Homo sapiens: one gene and its partners. The protein of the gene in region 3 interacts with the protein of the main gene of each other region in a biochemical or structural test. Each region holds a gene or a part of one and is shown on either strand. Other genes may lie near its edges.

Region 1 (3,653 bases), on a different chromosome or scaffold from region 3:
ACAATCTGTGCTGCCTCTTTTCACTGCCATGGTCTATGTACCAGGCTCTAAAGGTGGGGAGAGGAGATGGGAGCTATGAATTGGAGTCTTTTCTTTTCCAGACCCCACAGCAGGGAGTCCTTAGCTTTGCAAGCCCCAGAAGGTTCCTTTGCTTGGCTCACTTGAAAGACCTAGGCTGGTATCACCCACTTCTTTCAGAAAGGCCAACATTGCCCCAGACTGGGATGTACTCACCATCTTGGCTTCTGATGGTATAGGGTGGCCAGAGGGAGAAATGGAGCCACTACTGTTAACTGGTGGGCCAGGGATACCAGGAATGTTGGGCACCATGGACACAGGTCTGGCCAGCTGGATCGAGAGAAGGAAAAAAAAAAAAAGAGAAGGGAACATAATACCATCGGTGGGGCAACAGTTTCCCTAAAATGAAGCGCTTTTGAGATTGGCACATCAGGGCCTGTTGTGTGCAATGTGCCCATAGGGCGTGCAGGGACAGCCTGGGAAATACCTTTCTCCATGGAGCACCAGAGTAGGGAATTTAATCCTTCAGTGTTGGGGCAATTTCTGTGGGAAGGGTTGGGGCTGTTATCTTGAGGAAATTGTTGGGCAATTTGGGAGGTGCTACGTGCCAAGTGAAAGCAACTAATCAGTGGGCTGGCAAGATCAATTCCTAGACCAGGAGCCAATTGTCCAGATGAGTCTTTATCTAGTGTTCCATAGTGCTGGATTGGCAGAGGTTAGTGAAGAGTTTAGGCAGGCTGCCATGCTCAGCTAATATAGATCAGAGCCCACATTTCCCTGGGGCTCATGTGTATTTTATGACCATTCAGGTGGAAGGGAAGGATTACCATGTTGGTAGGGTTGGCTGCCCCAACTACAGAGCTCACCGATATAACAGACGGCATCTGTACTGGAGGCCCTGGCAACACAGGCATGGTCTGTCCATTAGCAAGATGCATGACAAGAGGGAGGGAGCCAGTGGGAGACCTAGAGGAGACATGAAGTGAAATGCTCATAACACAGACCTTTTGTCCATGGATCTTCCTCTTATAATTACAGAAGATTTTCCAGTCTTCTCTAGTTAGGGAAGGTATAGGGCAGCATGGTAAAAATCTTGACACCCTCATGAAGGTGAGAAGGCAGGGAATCCTATTCAACTTACCTTATAGATGGAGAAAAATGGCAAAATCTTTATACTTTGCAAATTAAGCAAACTCAAATAGTAGGAAGCTAATCCTATTAAAGGGTTTAGAACAATTAAACATTCCTACCACTGGCTTGCCTTGGGAAAGGGGAAGTTGGATCAAAGTCGTCATTTTGCAAAGCTGAGTTAGGTCACATGATGGCCAAATCTGAATGTTTCTCTTGTTTCTTTCCATGGCTTGCTCTACCCTGCCTCAAAAAGAAGTTGTCCCTTTTTATTTTTCCTAGTGGGTCCAGAGAACAATAAGCTCTAAGAATCTGAATCCTGACAACAGCCTCTTAACCCATGGGTACCGTGCCAGGAGTGAAGACAAACAGACAAATAAAATTAGAGGTGGCAAAGACCAAGAACCCTAACTGGGACTGAGGAGACTTAATGGGTTTCAGTGTTTCATTCAGTAGTACCCCAATAGACTTCTACAGGGTGTGGTTTCCACACTGTAATGAACTTCTAATGTTTTAAGAGCTCTTTTTAGATTAAAGAAGTATTAAACCCTTAAATTAAGAAAGTATTACCCCCGGCTGGGCACGGTGGCTCACGCCTGTAATCCCGGCACTTTGGGAGGCAGAGGCAGGCGGATCACGAGGTCAGGAGATCGAGATCGTCCTGGCTAACACGGTGAAACCCCGTCTCTACTAAAAATACAAAAAATTAGCTGGGCGTGGTTGCAGGCGCCTGTGTTCCCAGCTACTCGGGAGGCTGAGGCAGGAGAATGGCCTGAACCCGGGAGACGGAGCTTGCAGTGAGCCGAGATTGCACCACTGCACTCCAGCCTGGGCGACAGAGCGAGCCTCTATCTCAAAAAAACCCAAAAAAAACAAAAAGTATTACCTCCAAATAAATATTTGCTTGTCTATTAAAAAGGTAAAGAAGATTCTGTTTATGGGGGAAAAATTTATTTTGAGAGATAATCTCAGTGACTTATTTTCCTTGGGTATTGGAAAACAGTCCCAGTTTTATCAAATAGTTTCATGTAATGGAAAGAAATGCAGCCTTCACTACTTCTCCCTGCTCTCTGTACTTACCCCATTTGCCTGTTGGATGGTGGAGCCTGTGTGATGACAGAGGTTGGGGAGGGAAGGGTTGGATGAAGTGGATCATAGCCCAAGTGGAGAGGCAGGGAGCCAGGACGTACAATGGTGGGTGTGGGGGTAGAGATCAGAACAGGCTTTGGGGTAACCTCCTGGAGAAAAGAAACCAACAGATCACAAAATGTTTTAAGGTGTGCTTATAGGGAAATATATAGATGGTAAAATCTAGTACAAATTTATTGGAAAGAGCATTAGAGCCACTCATTAAATCATGACCTGATTCCATCAGGATCAGGGACCCATAACTCACTCATCCATTCAGGAGGAATGGTGTATTAAGATCTCTTGGTCATCTCCCCTTTCAGAGACAATGGCTACATAAATAAGATGACAGTTGGAATATCACTTGAAATCTCTGAAGCAGCACTGTAGTACCATATAAATTCTAGAGACTGTTATAATTTTTCACAATCTAGATACTCTCATTCTAAACTTGATACCAAGTGTCCTCTGAACTTCAGTGGGAAAAGGCAGGTATACTGGTAATGATGGTAATGAGGCAACCCAACATCTCCAACACACCTCTTAAAAAAGGGCTATGGAAGTTTGGATAATGATCATACTGTAATAAAACAAACTGCTCTCATTGTTAACTTCTTAAGATCTTAGACTGCCAGTGGTCAAATGGCCTTGACAGCATCCCCAGACAGTCTGTAGGACTTTGTTGCTGATGAAAAGGGAGGAGAGAGGCGGAGGAGGTTGCAGTGAGCTGAGATCGCACCACTGCACTCCAGCCTGGCGACAGAGCGAGACTCTGCCTCAAAAAAAAAAAAAAAAAGAAAAGGGAGGAGATGGGATGGTTGTAATGTTTATGAGAAGACAGATTTGAGAAGTTATCAAGTCAAATTTGGAGGGAAGTAACATGAGATATAGATGCTCTATCCATAGTGGATGTTAAAATTAACAACCACTGGCAGAGCAGTAGATTGAAAGAAGGAGGAAGCATGAGGGGGCTTCTGAGGTTCTAAGAAAATGTTTTTGATCTAGGTGCTGGTTATACAGACTACTGACTTCGTGAAAATTCAGTAAGTGATATAATTACAATTTATATACTTTTCTGTACATGTACTATATTTCAATAAATGTATTAAAAATAGTACTTCATGAAAGTACTTCCTTTAAAAAGAATAATCATCAGACTTCTAGTAGATACTTCCTTTAAATCACTTCTCTCTAGGATGACATTTTTTCGAAACTGTTAGATGTCCAATTTATGAATTATGTGAATTTTTCTTTCTCACTTATTAATTGAAGTATAACATACAGTGATGTGCATTAAAGTCATAACAACAAAATGACTTTTAGGCTGGGTGCGGTGCTCACGTCTGTAATCGCAGCACTTTGGGAGGCTGAAGCAAGAG
Region 2 (3,653 bases), on a different chromosome or scaffold from region 3:
TGCAACCTCTGCCTCCCAGGTTCAAGCAATTCTTTGCCTCAGCCTCCTGAGTAGCTGGGATTACAGGCACCCGCCACCACGCCCGGCTAATTTTTGTATTTTTAGTAGAGATGGGGTTTCAGCATCTTGGCCAGACTGGTCTTAAACTCTTGACTTCATGATCCACCCAGCTCGGCCTCCCAAAGTGCTGGGAATACAGGCCACCATGCCCAGCATCGGCTCATTTTTTGTAGAGAACAGGTTTCATCACGTTGCCCAGGCCGGTCTGGAATTCCTGGACTCCAGCGATCCACCTGCCTCAGCCTCCCACAGTGCTAGGATTATAGGCATGAGCCCCCACACCCAGCCTTCTAAAAGGTTTATTCAGGCCAGGCGAGGAGGTGGCTCATGCCTATAATCCTAACACTTTGGGAGGCAGAGGCAGAAGAATTGCTTGAGGCCAGGAGTTTAAAACCAACCGGGACAAAATCACGAGACCCCCATCTCTGCAACAAATCAAAAAATTAGCTGGGAATGGTGGCACGTGCCTGTGGTCCCAGCTACATGAGAGACTGAGGCAGAAGAATTACTTCAGCCCAGGAGGGTGAAGCTGCAGCGAGCTTTTTCACGCCACTGCACTACAGCATGGGCAACGGAGTGAGACCCTATCTCCAAAAAAAAAAAAAAAAGAAACAAAAAATGCTTTATTCACAATTCAGTTGAACATCTGAATGAATAACTCAAATGAACATCAACCGGTAAATGGATAAACAAAATGCACTGTAGCCATAAAACAGAATAACTATTTGGCCCTAAAAAGAAATGAAGTACTGATACATGTTACAACATAAATGATCTTCAAAAACTTTATGCTGTGGCTCACGCCTGTAATCCCAGCACTTTGAGAGGCCAAGGCAGGCGGATCACTTGAGGTCAGGAGTTTGAGACCAGCCTGGCTAACATGGCAAAACCCCATCTCTACTAAAAATACAAAAATTAGCCAGGTGTGGTGGCGCACACCTGTGGTCCCAGCTACTCAGGAGGGTGAGGCAGGAAAATTACTTGAACCCAGGAGGCAGAGGTTGCAGTGAGCAGAGATCACACCACTGCACTCCAGCCTAGGTGATAGAGTGAGACTCCATCTCAAAAAAAAAAAAAAAAAAAAAAGTGAAAGCCACCAAATATAAAAGGTCATACACTATATGATTCCATTTATATGGAATGTCCAGAAAAAGCTTTTTTTTTTTTTTTTTTTAGAGACAGGTTCTCATTCTGTTGCGCAGGTTGAAGTGCAGTGGCAGGATCACGGCAAACTCAACCTTGGAGACTCAAGCGATCCTCCAACCTCAGCCTTCCAAGCAGCTGAGACTACAGCCGCACACCACCAAGACGGATAATTTTTTTCTATTTTTCGTAGAGACACGGGTCTCACTATGTTGCCCAGGCTAGTCTCAAGTGATCCTCCTGCCTCGGCCTCCCAAAGTGTTGGGATCACAGGTATGAGCCACACTGGGCCTAGAAAAGCCAAATCTATAGAGATGAGAAATAGGTTAGTTGCCTGGGGCTGAGGGTGAGAATCAGAAGTAACTAAATTGGCCAAAACTCTGTTTCTTTTTTTTTCTTTTTTTTTTTTTTTTTTTTTCAGAGACAGGGTGCTGTTATGCTGCCCAGGCTGATTTCAAACTCCTAGGCTCATGCGCTCCATCTGCCTTGGCCTCCCAAAGTACTGGGATTACAGGCGTAAGCCACCATGCCCAGCCCCAAAATTTCTTTATAGGGTGATAAAAATTTCCTTTTTTTTTTTTTAAGATGGAGTCTCGGCCAGGCGCGGTGGCTCACGCCTGTAATCCCAGCACTTTAGGAGGCTGAGGCGGGCGGATTGCAAGGTCAGGAGATCGAGACCATCCTGGCTAACACGGTGAAACCCCGTCTCTACTAAAAATACAAAACATTAGCCGGGCGTGGTGGCGGGCACCTGTAGTCCCAGCTACTCGGGAGGCTGAGGCAGGAGAATGGCGTGAACCTGGGAGGCGGAGCTTGCAGTGAGCCGAGATCGCGCCACTGTACTCCAGCCTGGGCAACAGAGCGAGACTCCGTCTCAAAAAAAAATGCAAGGTCTCACTCTGTTGCCCAGGCTGGAATGCAGTGGTGCAATCTCGGCTCATGGGAAACTCCACCTCCCAAGTTCAAGTGATTCTCCTGCCTCAGTCTCCCAAGTAGCTGGGATTACAGGCATGCACCACCACGCCTGGGTATTTTTGTATTATTAGTAGAGACAGGATTTTACCATGTTGGCCAGGCTAGTCTTGAACTCCCAACTTCAAGTGATCCATCTGCCTTGGCCTCCCAAAGTACTGAGATTACAGGCCTGAGCCACTGCGCCCGGCCGAGTGGTAAAAATTTCTAAAACCTAATTTTGGTGATGGCTGCACAACTCTGTAAATATACTCAAAGTCACTGAATTGTATAAACAAAAAACAACAAAAAACTTGGCAGCAGAATTTCAGTTACTGACATTATAATATATAGCTTTAAAATCAATCTAATCTGATTATGAACTCTCAGTTTACACGAAAGGATACTAATTAATTTAAAATAGACTCCAGGCCAGGCGCGTGGCTCACGCCTGTAATCCCAGCACTTTGGGGCCAAGGCAGGCGGATCACCTGAGATTGGGAGTTCGAGACCAGCCTGGCCAACATGGAGAAACCCCGCCTCTACTAAAAATACAAAAATTAGCCAGGCCTGGTGGCGGGCACTTGTAATCCTAGCTACTCAGGAGGCTGAGGAAAGAGAATCGCTTGAACCCAGGAGGTGGAGGTTGCAGTGAGCCAAGATCGCGCCATTGCACTCCAGGCTGGATGACAAGAGTGAGACTCCATCTCAAAAAAAAAGAAAAAGAAAATAGACTCTAAAACATTACAAGTCTTTAAGCAATCATGTCAAAACTTTAGAGTAGTTAAGATATTAAAGTGAATATATCTTTCTTCAAAACTACCAGTACACAGCCAACATACACAACAAAAACACATAGGGGTGTGTGTGTGTGTGTGTGTGTGTGTGTGTGTGTGTGTGTGTGTGTGTGTGTGTGTGTGTTTAGCAATTAGGTTTCTGTCACCCAGGCTGGAGTGCTGTAGTAGGATAATAGCTCATTGCATCCTCAAACTCCTGGGCTCCAGTGATCATCTCTTCTCAGCCTCTGGAGTCACTAGTGCCAGGCGTGTGCTGTGTGCTACTATGCCCACTATTTATTTTTTTAATTTTTTGTACAGATAGGGTCTTGTTTTGTTGGCCAGGTTGGTCTCGAACTCTTGGCCTCAAATGATCCTTCCACCTTAGCTTCCCAAAGTTCTGGGATTACAGGCACGAGCTATCATACCCAGCCAAAAACTGATAGTATTCTTATAGAATAAATGTTCAAATGCCCCCAAAACACAAAATTTTAGTCATAACTCACTCATGGTGTGACCAAATCACGATAACATGTAATACCAGGAATGTACACTTCATGATTATACCCAGGCAAAGAGATGGGGCAGTATCAAGGGGGAAAAAACCAATTCTCACCATTTTAACTGGATACAGTTTCTTTTATGTGTGGGATATGGGGGTGGTCATGGTTAAAGGTTTTTTTTGTCTTTGTTGCTCTACGTAATCGCCTAGGATGGCTTCAC
Region 3 (3,653 bases):
TATTTTCTTGATTTTAGAGGTGAAAAGCCAGGCATCCTTCAAGCTAGTGGATCTTTGACAAAGATGCATTGCAAAACAATCAACAAACAATCAGAAAGGCATGCTATGTGTGAGTGATGATCCCTGCAGCATATGCCATAGGCTTGTTGTAGAGGAGCTGCTCAGTAAATGGTGGATTCAATTGAAACAAGTCTTTTTTGGATGCTTAATGGGAAGTTGTAGGGTGGGTATGATGGACTAAAAATTATTTCTAAAGAAGGTTATATATTGTATATATTCCAGAATCTTCCGTTTTTATCGTTTCTTAAATTAAAAAATAAAAATTTAACTCTGTCCCAGGTTAACTCAGATGTTAACACTTATATAGAAATTTTTTTCCTCTTTCCCCGTTAGGCATCTCACAGTATTTTCTGCTTGTCTGTTTAGGATGTTAGGTAGAGGAAAAGAGAGTGATAGAAGATTTTTTTTCTTAAAAAAAAAAAAAAAAAAAAAAAAAAACTGGGCCAGGCATGGTGGCTCACACCTGTAATCCCAGCACTCTGGGAGGCCGAAGCGGGTAGATCACAAGGTCAGGGTTCGAGACCAGCCTGACCAACATGGTGAAACCCCGTCTCTACTAAAAATACAAAAATTAGCCGGGTGCGGTGGCGCGTGCCTATAATCTCAGCTACTCAGGAGGCTGAGGCAGGAGAATCGCTTGAACCTGGGAGGTGGAGGTTGCAGTGAGCCGAGATCACGCCACGGCACTCCAGGCTGGGTGAAAGAGTGAGACTCCATCTCCAAAAAAAAAAAAAAAAAAAAAAGTTCAATGTTAGTATTTGCTGTCTATTTTAACTTCTTACTTTAAAGTAAAATTAGCAAAGTCTTATTGTTTCAACCTGATTTAAATTTTATCTCCCTTTTTTATTATTTAAAGGTTGGAGTCTTTATCACTGGCCTCAAAGGATGTAGACTTTTTTTTTTTAATAGAGATTTTTATTTTTGTCAGTCACTTTTAAGAGGATTAAAAATGTTGATCCCTTTCATATTTCCTCGTCCCTTTAAAAATATTCTATTATGACAAATTTCAAACATATGGAAGAGTGAATCTTGATCACCTATCTGTCTGTACCCTAATCCGTTAATCCATTTTTTTCTGATGAATTTCAAATTAAGTTGTGGACATCTGTGTATTTCACCCCTAAATACTTGAGCATATCCCTCATTTAACTTGATTTCTCTCTTACTTTCTACAATTTTATGCAAATGAGCTGTTTCCCATAGGTTCTGTCTTGATCTTAATCCTTTAAGGGTAAGGGCTAACTTGTGGTTGTGTTAATGGTCTTCATCGCTGCTGCCTATTTTTTTTTTTTAATTTCCTTAAAACAAAAGGTACTCTCAAAAGGCATATTGCACATGATTAGCAAGATTCAGAAGGAAGTGGTTAAAGTTTCTTACATGCCTTATACCTATGCTTTTAGTTCTTGTTTTGTATAAGGAATGTTGCATGAGGATATTGGAAAAAAATTTAAAATTAAGAGTTGAAGGCGGAACCTGATCTATAAGGATCCATTATGTTGAAGCCAAAGAAGCAGGTCTAGCTATTCTAAGTAAGTAGGCTGGAGAGGTGTTTCTTAACTCTATCTGGGTTTTGTTTTCCATTTGAAGAAAAATTATTTTAAGCAATTACCATTTTTGATTACTGTAATGACTCCTGTGTCCAAAAATTAATTACGTTTCTAATTATTAAAATAGAAAAAAAAATCTGTTCAAATTTTGTTATAAATAAAGACCCCAGACTTAACCTCAGTAATGCATTAGTTCTTAGCATAACTTTTGCATTTTCTGTTGCATAGGCTTTGTGATCTTTAACAGGATTATTTAAGCCTGAAATAATAGAGATACTATTTGGAGATCACTGTTTGACTAAGCCCTGAACATTTCCACGAATGTAGCCTTTAGAGAGAGAGGGTTCCTCAAGCTGTAGTTTCTTCCAGAGACATTGCTTGACTCCTCCTGGCCTCCCTTCATAAAGGATTTCTACATGGGCTGCATTTTAAGTGATCTTCTACTTTTGTATTTTTAGAAAATAATTCAAAATTTATAAATAGCAACTCTAATCTTAAACTGCTCTCCAGTATGTCCGCATTTTTATTCCAGAGAGAATTATTAATAAGTTGAAAACTGATTATATTTGACTTGAAATATTGACATTGATCTCTGGTATTGCCTGTTTTTGAACGTACTGTTCTTTTAATGTACAAAATAGATGTTTTTTGTGAGGAAGTTGTTTTTTTTTCTCCTAAGCATTGTTACCAAAATAAGACTTATTGAATGGTGACTTTAATACTAGCTTCTTAATATTCATAGAAATATTTAGATATCTAGGCTGGTGTATTTAGTCCTTGAGCATTTGCAGAATTACTTATCTGAAACATAAATAAGCTGTTAGTGTTATGTTATTAATAGTGAGTGTTGACTGTCTAGGCACTGTACCAGTCAGTCCTATGGAGACATTCTCCCATTGATTGCTCACACCAGTCCTGTTTCCAAAGCCCCTGAATGGTTACATTCAGCTGTACTGTCTTTCAGCAAGTTATACTATTTGTATCAAATTGGTTAGTGAAATCTTGTAGGTAATAGTCTTTCTTGAAAGTTTTGGAATTGATGTTTTTTGATGCTTCATGAAAAAAATGAGTTTTGAGTTTTGGAACCAAAATAGTAGTTGCTCCATGCTGGGCAGTGTGTTAGACCTTTTATATTTAATTCTGTTGAACCTGTGAGATAAGTATTAGTCCAATTTTGCCATTGAAGTTACTAAGACTAAGGTGAATTTGTGTAAATTGCATGTAGAGCTTGGGATTCACTCTCTGGTCTGACTTCAAAGCCATGTTCTTTCTGGTACATAGCCTTGTGCATGAAGTTTTTTTGCCATTTTATCCATATAAAAATTTTCCAGGAGGAGGATTTTTGCCTTAAACAAAAGAATAAAACATGTTTCGTATTTATTTATAGAAAAGGATTTTTTTTGGGGAAAGTTATAAAGCAGTTGCACACTAGAAAATGAGAAAGCTTTCATGAAGGAATGCAGGTCAGAAGACCTAGCTAGGTTAAACTCATTGCTTACCTCATCTTGATAGAGGAGATCTGGCTTCTTGCTATGTGGTTTTTCCATCTTCCTTCTACTTTGTCTTCTGTAAGAGAAAAATACTGATAAGTGACATTTATTATAGGTTATGTAAAATAATATATATGTGAAATTCCTTAAGATCTTAAGACTGAGCTAATTTTTTTTTATTAATTATGCTACTGTTGCTTCAGGGAACTAAGCAGTAAGCTGAAACCAATTCTGTGATGTTTGTCATTTATATTATCTGGAGAGTTGTTACCTACATTGCAGTTTATCCTGATTTCAATTTGACAATGTCTACATGTTCTTTTAAATTACTTGCTGAGTTGGTGAATTTTTGTTTCTGTTATTTTTAAAAACTGACAACATCCTTCTGCTTAAAAAAAATTCAGTGCTGTAGTTTTGCTTGCAGCCTGTATCTTAGCAGGGAACCCTTTGGAAACCCAGTCTCCAGAGAAAGTTTGACGGGCATCTTGGCATAGGCTGCTGCCTGGTATTACTCAAAAAGAAGGGCTGTTCATTTCCAGCAGGTGTTAAGAGCTGA

Evidence for each region.
Region 1: the proteins of URI1 (region 3) and ATF7 form a complex in vitro, tested with the Homo sapiens proteins (one large-scale study listed by BioGRID).
Region 2: of the proteins of URI1 (region 3) and RPS6KB1, one has a biochemical effect on the other in vitro, tested with the Homo sapiens proteins (one study listed by BioGRID).

The regions. Positions count from the first base shown.
Region 1 is NC_000012.12:53,532,276-53,535,928, forward strand, and holds part of ATF7 (cyclic AMP-dependent transcription factor ATF-7), read right to left. Parts: intron 3,318-3,653; exon of another isoform or gene 3,091-3,317; intron 2,385-3,090; coding exon 2,227-2,384; intron 985-2,226; coding exon 885-984; intron 349-884; coding exon 235-348; intron 1-234. Other genes in the region: ATF7-NPFF readthrough protein, read right to left, coding at 235-348, 885-984, 2,227-2,384. UniProt on the Homo sapiens protein: Stress-responsive chromatin regulator that plays a role in various biological processes including innate immunological memory, adipocyte differentiation or telomerase regulation.
Region 2 is NC_000017.11:59,899,594-59,903,246, reverse strand, and holds part of RPS6KB1 (ribosomal protein S6 kinase beta-1), read right to left. Parts: intron 1-3,653. UniProt on the Homo sapiens protein: Serine/threonine-protein kinase that acts downstream of mTOR signaling in response to growth factors and nutrients to promote cell proliferation, cell growth and cell cycle progression.
Region 3 is NC_000019.10:29,980,142-29,983,794, forward strand, and holds part of URI1 (unconventional prefoldin RPB5 interactor 1), read left to right. Parts: intron 1-17; exon of another isoform or gene 18-109; intron 110-3,653. UniProt on the Homo sapiens protein: Involved in gene transcription regulation. Acts as a transcriptional repressor in concert with the corepressor UXT to regulate androgen receptor (AR) transcription.